Homo sapiens: one gene and its partners. The protein of the gene in region 1 purifies or fractionates together with the protein of each later gene. This does not show direct contact. Each region holds a gene or a part of one and is shown in the gene's direction. Other genes may lie near its edges.

Region 1 (3,327 bases):
GTCTAGTTAATGATACCTTTCCTGAGTTGATTCTGCCATAAACTTAGGGATAATTCTTAATCTCTCCTTTATCCCTCTTTGTCCAACCTTTCAACAGGTCATGTCATATCTACTCCATAATATGTCCTGATTCTATCCGCTTGTCACTTGCACTGTTGGCCTGTCTTACCCACATCATTATCCTCTCCTTCTTAGACAACTATAATATAATAATAACCTTCTAACTGGTCATCTTGCATTCACTTCTGCTTTTACCTGAGTCTCCACATAACAATGTATTTTTAAAATATGTAGTTTTAAAAGACAGATCTCATCCTATTCTACTCCTTAAAACAGTTGAGTGGCTATTACTCTTACCATAATGCCCAAATACTTTTTTGTAGCCTACATCATCTTAAATAATCTGACATCTTCTGTAGGTTTATCTCTATTCTTTCTACTCCAGCCACATTTGCTCCTTCGTGCCCCAGGAGCTGTGTACAAGCAATCACCTCTGCTTGAAATCTTCCTTTACACACCTCTCTTCACCCTGCTAATTTTTATTCTTCAGTTCCCACATAAATTTCACTTTTTCAGGGAAGTTTTATTTTCTCATATGAGGTTAAGTTACTTTTAAAAAGCTTTTTGTACTTTTTTTTTTAAGGACTTAATCACAGTTGTACTTTCTTACATGACACTCTTTATCATCTGTCTCTCCCATTAAACTGTAAACTCTTTGATAGCAATGACTGTCTTACTCACCTTAACATCTAACCAGGGGTCTGGCTCCTAGTAAAAGCATGCAGTGAATATTTTTTGAATGAACTGAATGATTGAATACCTTTCAACAAACTAGAACAATGTCAAATAGTAAAACTAACTTGTTTTTTGTAGCATTTCATTTAGATAGAAGAAATTCACCACCAAATAGTTTGACACCGTGTCTAAAGATTCGGAATATGTTTGATCCCGTTATGTAAGTATTATGATCAGGGGTACATGTAACTCTTATTCTGAATATTTGGCTGGAAAATGCATGATATTCTTATAATGGTGTGTCTGTAATTGAAAATGTTTTTCTTCTGAATCTCTACCACAGAAATGTTATGTTTTTCTCTTTCATTAAATTCCAAGCAAAGATTTGGCCAAAGGACACTAATGTATAAAGATTTGTAAAACTTTTATAAATCTTTGTATTCCTTATGAATCGTCATAGCAGATAGATAAATGCTTGAGGCAAATTAATGACTCACAATGACAAAGAGTACCCTTTATTAAATGTGTAAGTCATTATACATGACTGTCAATATTTTTGCCTCAGTAGAAAATATAGATACAATCACTGCTGCTTACAAATTTCAAATCTCAAATTGTAAAAAGTTTCCTACAAAGATGTATATACCTGCTTCTCTACAAAGTCCTGTCTCCACTTGTCAATATAATATTTGAAGAACTTTTCAGACTTTATAATTCCAACAACATATGCTTCCAGAGAATAGCACAGTCAAAAGTGACTGCCTTAGAATTCACAGTATTTCATATATAAGCTGTAATAGTTCTTAGAATTAGCTTCCTGAGGGCACTGCTTATCTATCCAGTGATAGTACAGATCAAATTCTGTTTGTTTTAAAAGTCCCAACAGTGGCAATTACAATATGTATACAATACCCCCAAAGTCTCATCTAATCACTCATTGATGAAATTCCAAATAAGTGACAGCAAAATTGGAAATGTGAGGAAGCAGTATGCACACGTGTTTGCACGTGGGCACGCGCACACACACACACACACACCCCCCCCACACACACAGAGACAAACACCGCCTCTATTTTGCAGAGATAGAAACAATTAGTAGTGTGATGATACCTCTGTTGGGAATCTTACCTCATGCCTTAGGAATTGGCAAGTCCACTATTTTATTACCTAAGATGAAAATTTGTGATTTGAAGTGAAGTCACTTTCCTCTCTCTCCTGCCATCTTTGTCTCACAAGCAAGACAAATGTCCCTTACTACAGCAGAAACACCTTAAAACTGTCATTATAGTAAGGTGACTGTACAAAATGTTAGTCCTGTATCAATTATTTTGGAAAAGAGAAGCTCAAATGTAGTATTTACTAAGAATTTTCTTTAGGAATTTGAACCTATCATTACAATTAAAGAAAATAACATTCGGCTGGGCACAGTGGCTCACACCTATAATCCCAGTGCTTTGGGAAGCCGAGGTGGGTGGATCACTTGAACTCAGGAGTTCGAGACCAGCCTGGGCAATGTGGCAAAACCCCGTCTCTACAAAAAATACAAAAGAAATTAGCCAGAATTGGTGGTGTGTGCCTGTAGTCCCAGCTATCTGGGAGGCTGAGGTGGGAGAATGGTTTGAGCCTGGGAGGCACATATTGCAGTGAGCCGAGATCACGCCACTGCACTCCAGCCTGGGTGACAAAGCGAGACCCTGTCTCAAATAACTAACATTTAACTTTTACAACTTTAATAAGTTCACAACTCATTTAAAGTACTTATTAACAATAGAAAGAAAACAGAAATTACTGTAAGTACACAGGATTTTTAAACATAGGAATGACCCAATCCATTTATTCTGCAGCGGTGGGCTAGTCTTTCATTGCCTCAGCTCTCTGCACTCTTTTTTTTTTTTTTTTGAGACGGAGTCTCACTCTGTTGCCCAGGGTTGAGTGCAGTGGCGTGATCTCGGCTCACTGCAAGCTCTGCCTCCCAGGTTCACGCCATTCTCCTGCCTCAGCCTCCCGAGTAGCTGGGACTACAGACACCTGCCACCACGCCTGGCTAATTTTTTTTTTTTTTTGTATTTTTAGTAGAGACGGGGTTTCACCGTGTTAGTCAGGATGGTCTCGATCTCCTGACCTCATGATCCGCCTGCCTCGGCCTCTCAAAGTGCTGGGATTACAGGCATGAGCCACCGCGCCTGGCCAGCGCTCTGCACTCTTTTACTGGAAAGTGGGAGGAGGGCTGAGACTTCTGAATTGTAATTTTTAAATCTACCTCCTGTTAGTCAACAAGCATTTACTTAATACCAATTAAAATCGTATGTGGTTTTAAAACTATACCAATTCTAGTAATATATATATGTTGTAAGAGACAGTGAAGAATTTTTACCGAGTAGGAATATGGTTGTTGATTTTTGTTTTCATTAACTTTTAGGGAAATAGGGGATCAGTGGCATTTGGCAATTCAAGAAGCAATTTTAGAAAAATGCAGTGATAATGATGGCATTGTTCACATTGCAGTAGACAAAAATTCACGTGAGGTAAAGTAACTTTTGGTATTGAATTTCATGTTTTGGATTTGTTGCTATTAAACTAAGACTATTTTCT
Region 2 (3,691 bases), on another chromosome or scaffold:
AGTAATTGTTGATATTTATCCATGGTGAAGCATGTGTCAGAGTTTATTCCTTTTTATTGCTAAGCAGTGTTCCATTGTGTATCTGTTTTACTACAGTTTGTCCATTCACCTGTTGGTGGACCCTGGGTTGTTTCTGGTTTTGGGCTCTACACCTAGAAGCTGCTATGAACATTTGTGTACAAGTTTTGGTATTGTTAAAGTATAAACTGAGGCAGAATAAAATTTTAAAGAGTTTTGTCTGAGCAAACAGCAATTCATGAATCAGACAGCAACAAATCAAAAGTGATTTGGGACTCCACCAAAGGAATGCAAGTGGAAGACTTCTATAGGATGAACAAGGAAACAAGGCAAAGAAAATATTTGATTAATTATATTTATATAGTTGCCTTGTTTAGTCCATCCTATTGGAAAGTCCCTAGTTATGTAAGTTAGTTGATGGCTTCTAATTGGCGTAGCCTAAGTTTGTTTGTTTCTTTTTTTTTTTTTTTTTTTTTTTTAAGAGACAGGGCTAGAGTGCTTTGGTGCGATCGTAGCTCACTGCAGCTTTGAACTCCTGGGCTCAAGTGATCCTCCCACCTCAGCCTCTCAAGTAACCAGGGCAACATGAACTACAGACATGCATCGCCACGCCTGGCTAATTTTTTAATTTCTTATAGAGGCAAGGTCTCGCTAGCTATATTGCCCAGGCTGATCTCAAATTCTGGCCTCAAGTGATCCTCCTGCTTCAACCTCCCAAGGTGCTTACAGGCATGAGCCACCATGCCCAGCCTGATTTTTCTTTAATATAGGCACAGACAAAAAATAACCAAAGTTTACATTTGCAAACAGCCCAAATTAAGTTTTGCTTCTATTGCTTATATTTGCAAGGTCAAGGTTGTTTTAATGGCTTAACTGGCTTTGTCCAGGGGATTTACAGACCTGGTCTCCATCTTATTTTAATAGTATGAATATGTGCTTTCATTTCTTTTAGGTAAATATCTAGGAATGGAATGGCTGGATCATATGAGTAGGCTTACTCACTTATTAAGAAACTTGGCCTGGACTACATAGCAAGACTCTCTCTCTAAAAAAAGATTTTTTTTTAATTAGCCAAGTGTATTAGTCTGGGTTCTCTAGAGGGACAGAACTAAGAGGATATATGTATATATGAAAGGGAGTTTATTAAGGAGAATTGACTCACACCATCACAAGGTGAAGTCCCATGATAGGTCATCAGCAAGTTGAGGAGCAAGGAAGCCAGTGGTGGATCAGTACGAGTCCCAAAAGTAGGGAAGCTAACAGTGCAGCCTTCAGTCTGTGCAGCCAAAGGCCCAAGAGCCCCTGGAAAACCACTGGTGTAAGTCCAAGAGTCCAAAAGCTAAAGAACTTGGAGTCTGATGTTCTAGGTCAGGAAGCATCCAGCATGGGAGAAAGATGAAGTCCATAAGACTCAGCAAGTCAGCCCTTCCATCTTCTCCTGCCTGCTTTATTCTACCCCCGCTGGCAGCTGAGTAGATGGTGCCCAACCAGATTGAGTGTGGGTCTACCCCTCCCAGTCCACTGACTCAAATGTTAATTTCCTTTGGCAACACCCTCACAGACACACCCATGAACAATACTTTGTATCCTTCAGTTCAGTCAAGTTGACACTCAATATTAGCCATCCCACCAGGTGTAGTGGCTCCCACTTGTAGCCCCAGATACTCGGGAAGCTGAGGCAGGAGGATCACTTGAGCCCAGGAGTTAGGCTACATTGAGCTATAATATGATAGAGGCACTGCGCTACAGCTCTGGTAACAGAGCAAGATGCTGTCTTTTTTTTTTTTTTAATAAGAAAATAATCTAACTTGTTAAGTTCATAACTTATTAACAAAACTATTTTATATTCCCATCAGCAGTGTATGAAAGTTCTAGTCCTTCCACGTTAACAACACTTGGTATGGTCATTCTTTTTAATGTTAGCCATTCTATTTTTAGCCCTTCTGTGTAGTGGTGTCTTATTATGGTTTGATTTGCATTTCCCTAATGACTAACAATGTTGAGCATCTTTTTTTTTTTTTTTTTTTTTTTTTTGTGGAGACGGGAGTCTCGCTCTGTCGCCCAGGCTGGAGTGCAGTGGCGGGATCTCGGCTCACTGCAAGCTCCGCCTCCCGGGTTCACGCCATTCTCCTGCCTCAGCCTCCCAAGTAGCTGGGACTACAGGCGCCCGCCACTACGCCCGGCTAATTTTTTGTATTTTTAGTAGAGACGGGGTTTCACCGTTTTAGCCGGGATGGTCTCGATCTCCTGACCTCGTGATCCGCCCGCCTCGGCCTCCCAAAGTGCTGGGATTACAGGCGTGAGCCACCGCGCCCGGCCGAGCATCTTTTTCAAGTGTTTATTTGAAGGGTTCAGGCCTTTTCCCACATTTTAATTGAGTTGTGTTTGTTATTATTTCATTTTGATCATTTTAAAATATATTCTTGGTACAAGTCCTTTATAAGACGCATGCTTTGCCCATATTTTCTCCAGGTCCATCACTTGTCTTCTCATTCTCTTAACAATGTCTTTGAAAGAGCACAGATTGCTAATTTTGATGAAATTCAATTTATCATTTATGCTATTGAATATCATATCTAAGAAATCTTTGCCTAACTCAGAGTGACAAAGATTTTATCCTATGCTTGCTTTTGGTTTTTTTCCATTTAGGTCTATGATTCACCTTGAATTACATGCTAGTGGATGTGGAGTGGTATCTAATTGTGCTTTTGATTTGCATTTCCTTTTTGGCTAATGGTGTTGAGCATCTTTTCATGTATTTATATAGGCCATTTATATATCTTCTTTAGAGAAATGTCTGTTCAGATCTTTTGCTTGTCGAGTTATCTTTTTTTTTTTTTTTTTTTGCTTTTTAAAGTAAGACAGACAAATGATTTACAAATGTTCTCTAATTGTATGGGTTATTTCTTCACTTTCTTGTTGATGTCCTTTGCAACACAAGTTTTTTTATTTTGATGAGGTCCAGTTAATATTTGTTTTGTCTTTGGTGTCATATCTAAGAAGCTGTTGCCTGATCCAAGGTCACAAATATTTACACATAGGTTTTGTTCTAAGAGTTTTCTAGTTTTGACTCTTATATTCAGATATTTGACCCATTTTGAGATAATTTTTGAATGTGGTGTGAAGTAGGAGTCTAGTTTCATTCTTTTGCCTGTAAATATCCAGTTGTCCCAGTACTATTTATTGAAAAAACTATTCTTTCTCCCATTGAACTGCCTTGCTATTCTTGTTGAAAATCAACTAACCATAAATGTGATGATTTATTTTTGGGCTTTAAGTTCCATTCCATTGACTATATGTCTATTTCTATGCCATACCACATTGTCTTAATTACCTGGGGCTCTGTAGTAATTTTTGGAATTGGGAAGTGTTTTCCTTCAATTTCATTTTTCTTGTTCAATATTATTTGGGTTATTCTGGGTTTCTTGAATTTGTATAAATTTTAAGATCAGCTTGCCAATTTCTGCAAGAAGTCCACTGGGATTCTTGAAGAGGATTGTGTTTAATCTGTACATTAATTGGGGAATATTACCATTTTAGCAATATTAAGCCTTCCAATCATGAGTGTGGTGTCTTTCTGTTTATTTAAATCTTAACTTTCTTCCAACAATGTTTTGTAGTTTCTATGAATACAAGTCTTGCAGTTCTTTTGTTAACATTATTCCTATTTTAT
Region 3 (3,691 bases), on another chromosome or scaffold:
ACTCCCAAGTTTTTCTTCTTTACATTATGTGTTATCTAATGGCTTATTTTTCTTGTGCTTTTAGAAAAGATGTATAGGATGAATTGCTGCTGCACAGAGTTACAGAAACAAGTAGGTAAAATTTCCTTTAAGTGAAATTATACTCCTAACGTTTTTAGAAATTAAATCATATGGTTTCTTTTTCACCCACAGGTTGAAAAACATGAACATATTCTTCTCTTCCTCTTAAACAATTCAACCAATCAAAATAAATTTATTGAAATGAAAAAACTGTTAAAAAGTTAAGTAAGTTAAATCGTATGTTTTCGCCTCTTCTGTGATCACCAATAGGACATCTTCAGGCATATTGGCAGGATAGAGCTAATGGAGTGAAACCTATTGTAAGGCTGTACTTTCGTGATTTAATGACCTGAGGTTTGGTCATAATGCTTCTGCTGTTTTTGTAGGTTTATCTGATCGTTTTCCTTTGCTACTGCTAATGGAACTGAACCCCCAGGGGTATTCCAGTTGTAATAGCCTTTCCTTACTGTTGTTTGGTTCTGTGAATGCCTATGTTATTGATATGTGGAGGGACTTGTAAAACTTGTTGTGACATAAAGCTTAGCCTCAGATTTTTTGTCTAGATCTGAAATTAACTCAGAGCTCACTTATGCACATTGCTGTAAATATGTTTAGCACTTTTTGCGAGGGGTATCTAAAGGGCCAAGAACGGAAAGTGGATCTAAAGGGCCAAGAACGGAAAGTGGGCTGCACTGAGGGTATTTTTCATTTAAAAACAAAACATACTCCCTGCTTTTGGCTGTGGTGATTCTAGTGTCTAAAGAACATACTGGTGAGTTTTAAACCAGTGTTCCTCCCCACCCCACCCCCATATTTTAAATGTCTGGGATCCTTTGTTGTAAGATGGTTCTCAGAAATAAATTTTTGATTAAGAGCCAATTAGAACTTCTGATCAGGGCTGGGGGTGGTGGCTCACGCCTGTAATCCCAGCACTTTGGGAGGCTGAGGCGGGCAGATCACCTGAGCCCAGGCGTTCGAAGTCAGCCTGGCCAAGATGGCGAAACACTGCCTCTACTTAAAATACAAAATTAGCTGGGCATGGTGGTGCACACCTGTTAACCCAGCTACTTGGGAGGCTGAGACAGGAGAATCGCTTGAATCCAGGAGGCGGCGGTTGCAGTGAGCCAAGACTGCTATTATACTCCAGCCTGGGTGACAGAGTGAGAGTTTGTCTCAAAAACAAAACAAAACAAAACAAAAAAAAAAACAACCTCTAATCTCAGAATAAAGTTGTCTCTCCTCACCACTTTGAGTTGTTACAGTTCCAGCCAAAAGCAAAGGAACTTTGATTTACTTAATATGTGCACTTTTGTTGGTTAACAAATTTATATTAAACTGTTTGGAAATAGTTCAAGAGGTGGCTATAATACTCTTCATGAATCTTTTATGGGTGTAGTAACTCTCAAGTAGGAACCAACTGCCAACTGTGTTAAAACATATCTTTCATGTGGTAATAGACCGTTTCTTTGCGTTTTAAGAAAGGTCAATTGAATTATAAGCTAAATGTAATTAATGCAAGATCAACTATCTTGACTCTCATGTTTCCTTTTACAAATTTTGGGTTATTACAACTTTCAGTCCTTTCTAATACATTGTCTTAATACTGACTGTTTTGTATGTTTAAGCTTAAAATCTTTTAATCTTTTTTTTTTTTTTTTTTGGAGACGGAGTCTTGCTCTGTCACCCAGGCTGGAGTGCAATGGCGTGATCTCGGCTCACTGCAAGCTCCACCTCCCAGGTTCACGCAATTCTCCCACATCAGCCTCCCAAGTAGCTGGGACTACAGGCGCACACTGCCACACCCGGCTAATCTTAAACTTAATGGTGATTTTAATTTCATAGATCAAGGAACATGCAATGACATGGATTTCTGGAATTTAGTCCTAGTATCAAGTCACTATATATATATATATTTTTTTTTTATTTTTTATTTTTATTTTTTTTTGAGACAGTCTCGCTCTGTTGTCCAGGCTGGAGTGCAGTGGCGCTATCTCAGCTCACTACAACCTCCGCCTCCCGGGTTCATGCCATTCTCCTGCCTCAGCTTCCCAAGTAGCTGGGACTATAGGTGCCCGCCACCACACCCAGCTAATCTTTTTGTATTTTTAGTAGAGACAGGGTTTCACCGTGTTAGCCAGGATGGTCTCGATCTCCTGACCTCGTGATCTGCCCTCCTCGGCCTCCCAAAGTGCTGGGATTACAGGCGTGAGCCACTGCGCCCGGCCACCAAGTCATTACATTTTTAACCAAGTTGGTTGGCCTGTATGTTCTTCTTATCTGTGTAACAGGCATTTTTCCTAAGGATATTGAGTGTGCTTACACATAAAACTTAAAGTGAAATTTCATTGTTTCTTGATAGATTTAAGACAGGGCTTAGTAGCTTTCAAAAGAAAACTTGATTTAAAGCATAGTAGTTGAACTGGATTTTTCCTGACTGTGGGAATAAATAGATATTTTATTTACATTTGAATACAGTGCAATACCTTGTGTTTGGGTAGTACGTATTTACAAAGCATTTTTACATCTACTCACATACTTAATCTTCACAATGCCCTTGAAAAGAAAGTAGGACCCATTTTACAGTTAAGGAAGCTGAGGCTCAGAGAGGGTTACATGACTGTCCAAAATCACATACAGGCTGAAACACTAGGTCTTACGACTTAAAACAGTTGTGTCAACTTCCCTGAGCTGCTACGTGTACAGTATCCTTTTAGATCAGATCAGTTACATAGGGCATGAAACTAGAGGGTTACATTATTAGGAAAAAATAATGTACATGATTGCTTAAGCATTACTTCATTGTGGTGAAAATAGAGCTGAATATTTACTCCTTTAAATTATTCTTTGAGATAGAATGGGTGTAAAAATGTATTTTGGCTGGGCATGGTGGCTCAGGCCTGTAATCCCAGCACTTTTGGGAGGCTGAGGAGGGCAGGTCACATGAGGCCCAGGAGTTTGAGACCATCCTGGCCAACATGGTGAAACTTTGTCTCTACCAAAAAAAATATAGAATTAGCCAGGTGAGGTGGCGTGCACCTGTAGTCCCAGCTACTGGGGAGGCTGAGGCAGGAGAATTGCTTGAACCCAGGAGCCGAAGGTTGCAGTGAGCCGAGATGGCACCACTGCACTCCAGCTTGGGCAACAGAGTGAGACCCTGTCTCAAAAAAATAAAATAAAAGACAAACACATGTATTTCATCATCTGGAGAAATTTAATTGTTAGCAATTTAATTGTAAAATTGCTAAAACAGAAGTGCTGTGGTGATATGAACATAAAACCCTCTGTAATCTGTTGCTCAGGTGATGTTTCAACACACAAGTTAATGTCAGATATCTTTTATATATAAGGAGAGTGCAAACAACTATATGTTATATTTGTGAAGGGGAGTATAAACAGCTGTACTTAGCATATATTATGCTATGTTATGGTGGTCATTAATTTTCTTAACTGACAGGTCTGGCTTAAATGCGTAATTTCAGTTAAAAGTGAATATTTTGTTTGCTTGTATTTGAAATTAAAAGCCATAGCAATTGAGTTTTTGTGTAAGGCATAATGATAGTTGATTTTTTTTCTTTTTCAGAAACAGCATCTCTTGGAGGTAAACCCTTATGAGACAGGAAACAGCAAAGGC
Region 4 (3,691 bases), on another chromosome or scaffold:
TTAATTTTTAATCAGTTAACAATATTTAATATGAGAGAAACATAAAACAGTGCAACTAAGCAATTTTAAAATCATCTACATTGACCTTTGTGTTGAATATATCAATTTGAAAAGAAAATGGTTAAGATTTTCCAGTAAAGCTTTTGGTTTTATAGTTATGCTTAGTTGGAGCTTAAAGATAGTATTAAAACATTATTCTTTTCTTCTTTCAAACAAAAAGAAACCCGTTGGGGACATGTTTAATGTATTTTTAAAAAATACATATTATCTAATGTAACATATTTAAAAAGAACAAAGCAGGGGAAAAATCTTCATCTGGCAACTATGCATTAACATCATACAATAATGTCGACTTTACGGAGTTCAGGCTCCATTTTACTTAAAGTTCTAGGAAGATTTGTCAAGGTTAAGTTTTTGCTGTCTCCAGTTCCCACCTGCCCTGGATAATACGAATGACAGGCTTGGTTTTTTACAGAGAATACTTATTTGATTGTCATGTAAATATATATTACCCCTAGTGAGGGTTATGCAGAGACAGATGAACTTCCTGGTCCAAACAGATAGTAATTTTTATCTTCAAAGGAAACCAAAAAGAGTATCCTTGGCAAATGTGCAATGAATAAAGTCTTGCTCTGCTCTATACAAGTTAATGCTCTCTAAACATCAAACATCTCCACATCTCCATGCCTGAAGTGAAGCTGTCAAAGACACACAGAATTTACAATTGTGAGAGATTCTTTGGTATGTAAATGAGCTGTTTCCTCATAAACTGCAGACTCTATCTCACTTACAATGTACTTTAAATATTACATTTAAATATATGTGGTTTAGATATTTTCTAATTTGTTATCTGTGCCAGAAGCTAGGGCATGTGGTTTTCACCCAAACAAGTTAAAGACATGATATTTTGACCTATAAGAACAAAGATAATTTAAATGGAGCAACCTGTTCTTTATAGGGGAAACTTGGTTTCATTTAGACAGCATGAAGCTGGAACTCATTGTGACAAACCAGTTTTATCTTTGCTACGCATTTGCTGCATCATTCTCCCCTCCCTGACACAGGTTACTGAAGTGTTGAGAAAAACAAAAGAAGGAAAAACTCTTAGTATTTCAAACTTAGTTTTAATATGGTCTAGGGCATTAGTGAGCTCGTGGATGTGAGAGATTCAGTTTCCATTTATACAGACGTTCAAAATACATATTTAGCAAACTTTCCTTGGAAAATTGTCTGTTGCCTTTGAAAATAAAATTATCATGTGATTAGGGGAATTTTCTGTTTGAGGAAGACATTTAATATAATGTCAAGACAAAAATAAGAGATATGAAGTGGCACTTCTCTGACATTCACTGCTGGAGCTATTATTTTTGCCCATGGTTATTCTGATTTAACCTATATATTATTGACTAGGGGAAAAAGCGTACTGTAAAATCTGAAAGTTACTACAGTATAGTAAAATGCCAAGTTTGTGAATTTAAATCTGCAGAAATATTAGGCATTGCATTTAGAAAAAGGCAAGTTACCTCCATCTGAAATATAACAAAATTTTAGATTCTATGGTATTAATTATCATCCTAGATGTAGATTTATGAAGCAGTATGTCATGCCAGAGGTTTGGTTTTATTCAATATTTTAATACCTATTACGTACCAAATTGAATGCCTGACAATGTGGACACAAAAATGAATGATAAAAGGTCCCTGCTACATTGCAAAACAAAAAGAAAAGAGCAAAAAATAACAGTGAGAATAAAGACTGGACAGATTATAAAACATTTGATTCCAATTTGAATTGCAGCCATGTCTCTTTTTATTGCACTTTGCTTTATTGCATGCCACAGATATTGCATTTTTCAAAGAAAATGAATAAAGCTATCACCACCATTTTTCCAACAGCATGCGTTCATTTCCTGTCTCTGTGTCACATTTTGGTAATTCTCACAGTATTTCAAATGTTTTCGTTATTGGTATGTCTGTTTCGGTGATCTGTGACCATTGTTCTTTGATATCAATATTGTAATTGTTTTAGGTCACCACAAGCTGCCCCTATATAAGATGGTGAATTTCATCAATAAATATGTGTGTTCTGACTGCTCCAACAACTAGACATTCCCACTATCTCTCCTTCTCCTCAGGCTTTTCTGTTCCCCGAGACACAACAATATTGAGATTAGGAAAATTAATAACCTACAACAGCCTCTAAGAATTCAAGTGAAAGGAAGAGTTGCATATCTTTACTTTCAATCAAAAGCTGAAAATAATTAAGCTTACTGAGGAAGGCATGCCAAAAGCCAAGATAGGCTGAAAGCTAGGCCTCTTGCACCAAACAGCCAAGTTGTGAATGCAAAGGAAAAGTTCTTGAAGGAAATTAAAAGTGCTACTGAACACATGAATGATAAGAAAGTGAAACAAACTTATTGCTGATGTGGAGAAAGTTTTAGTGGTCTGGATAGAAGATCCAACCAGCCAGAATTCTCTTTCAGCCAAAGCCTAATCCAGACCAAGGCCCTAAATCTCTTCAATTCTGTGAAGATGTGGAGAGGTAAGGAAGCTGCAGAAGAAAAGTTGGAAGCTAGCAGAGGTTGGTTCATGAGGTTTAAGAAAAGAAGCCATCTCCACAACATAAAAGTGCAAGGTGGAAGCAGCAAGGATTGATGTAGAAGCTGCAGCAAGTTATCCAGAAGATCTAGCTAAGATCATTGATGAAGGTGGCTACGCTAAACAACACATTTTCAATGTAGACTAAACAGTCCTCTATTAGAAGAAGATGCCATCCAGGACTTTCAGAGCTAGATAGGAGAAGTCAATGCCTGGCTCCAAAGCTTCAAAGTTTAGGCTGACTCTTGTTAGGGAATAATGCAGCTGGTGACTTCAAGTTGAAGCCAATGCTGGTTTACCATTATGACAATTCCAGGGCTCTAAAGAATTACAATAAATTTACTTTGCCTGTGCTCTATCAATGAGATAATAAAGCCTGCATGACAGCACATCTGTTTACAACATAGTTTACTGAATATTTTAAGCCCACTGTTGAGATTTACTACTCAAAAAAAAAATTCTTCCAAAGTATTTCTGCTTATTGACAATGCACCTGGTCACCCAAGAGCTCTGATGGTGATATACAAAAAGATTAATGTTGTTTTCGTGCCTAACAGAAGATCATTTTTGCAGCTCATGGCTCAAGAAGTAATTTTGATTTTCAAGACATTTTTTAAGAAATACATTTTGTGGGCCAGGCTCGGTGGCTCATGCCTATAATCCCAGCAATTTGGAGGCCAAGGTGGGTGGATCACCTGAGGTCAGGAGTTCAAGACCAGCCTGGCCAATGTGGTGAAACCCTGCCTGTACTAAAAATACAAAAAATCAGCTGGGCGTGGTGGCAGGCACCTGTAATCCCAGTTACTTGGGAGGCTGAGGCAGGAGAATTACTTGAACCCGGGTGGTGGAGGCTGCAGTGAGCCGAGATCGTGCCACTGCACTCCAGCCTGGGGAACAAGAGCAAAACTCTGTCTCAAAAAATAAAATAAAATAAAATAAAATAAAATAATAAAAAATTAAAAAAAACATTTTATAAGGCTATAGGTGACATAGGGAGAAATACCTCTTATGGATCCAAGCAAACTATATTGACAACTTTCTCAAGAATTCACCATTCTAGATGCCATTAAAAAATATAATTTTTACATTACAAA

What was found.
Region 2: the proteins of LEMD3 (region 1) and CSGALNACT2 purify together in Homo sapiens (co-immunoprecipitation; one large-scale study listed by IntAct). This does not show direct contact.
Region 3: the proteins of LEMD3 (region 1) and TDRD1 purify together in Homo sapiens (affinity purification with mass spectrometry; one large-scale study listed by BioGRID and IntAct). This does not show direct contact.
Region 4: the proteins of LEMD3 (region 1) and TRDN purify together in Homo sapiens (co-immunoprecipitation; one large-scale study listed by IntAct). This does not show direct contact.

Annotation. Positions count from the first base shown.
Region 1 is NC_000012.12:65,242,515-65,245,841, forward strand, and holds part of LEMD3 (inner nuclear membrane protein Man1), read left to right. Parts: intron 1-873; coding exon 874-955; intron 956-3,154; coding exon 3,155-3,260; intron 3,261-3,327.
Region 2 is NC_000010.11:43,144,938-43,148,628, forward strand, and holds part of CSGALNACT2 (chondroitin sulfate N-acetylgalactosaminyltransferase 2), read left to right. Parts: intron 1-3,691. UniProt on the Homo sapiens protein: Transfers 1,4-N-acetylgalactosamine (GalNAc) from UDP-GalNAc to the non-reducing end of glucuronic acid (GlcUA). Required for addition of the first GalNAc to the core tetrasaccharide linker and for elongation of chondroitin chains.
Region 3 is NC_000010.11:114,227,846-114,231,536, forward strand, and holds part of TDRD1 (tudor domain-containing protein 1), read left to right. Parts: intron 1-64; coding exon 65-111; intron 112-192; coding exon 193-285; 3' UTR 286-3,640; coding exon of another isoform or gene 3,641-3,691. UniProt on the Homo sapiens protein: Plays a central role during spermatogenesis by participating in the repression transposable elements and preventing their mobilization, which is essential for the germline integrity.
Region 4 is NC_000006.12:123,626,767-123,630,457, reverse strand, and holds part of TRDN (triadin), read left to right. Parts: intron 1-3,691. UniProt on the Homo sapiens protein: Contributes to the regulation of lumenal Ca2+ release via the sarcoplasmic reticulum calcium release channels RYR1 and RYR2, a key step in triggering skeletal and heart muscle contraction.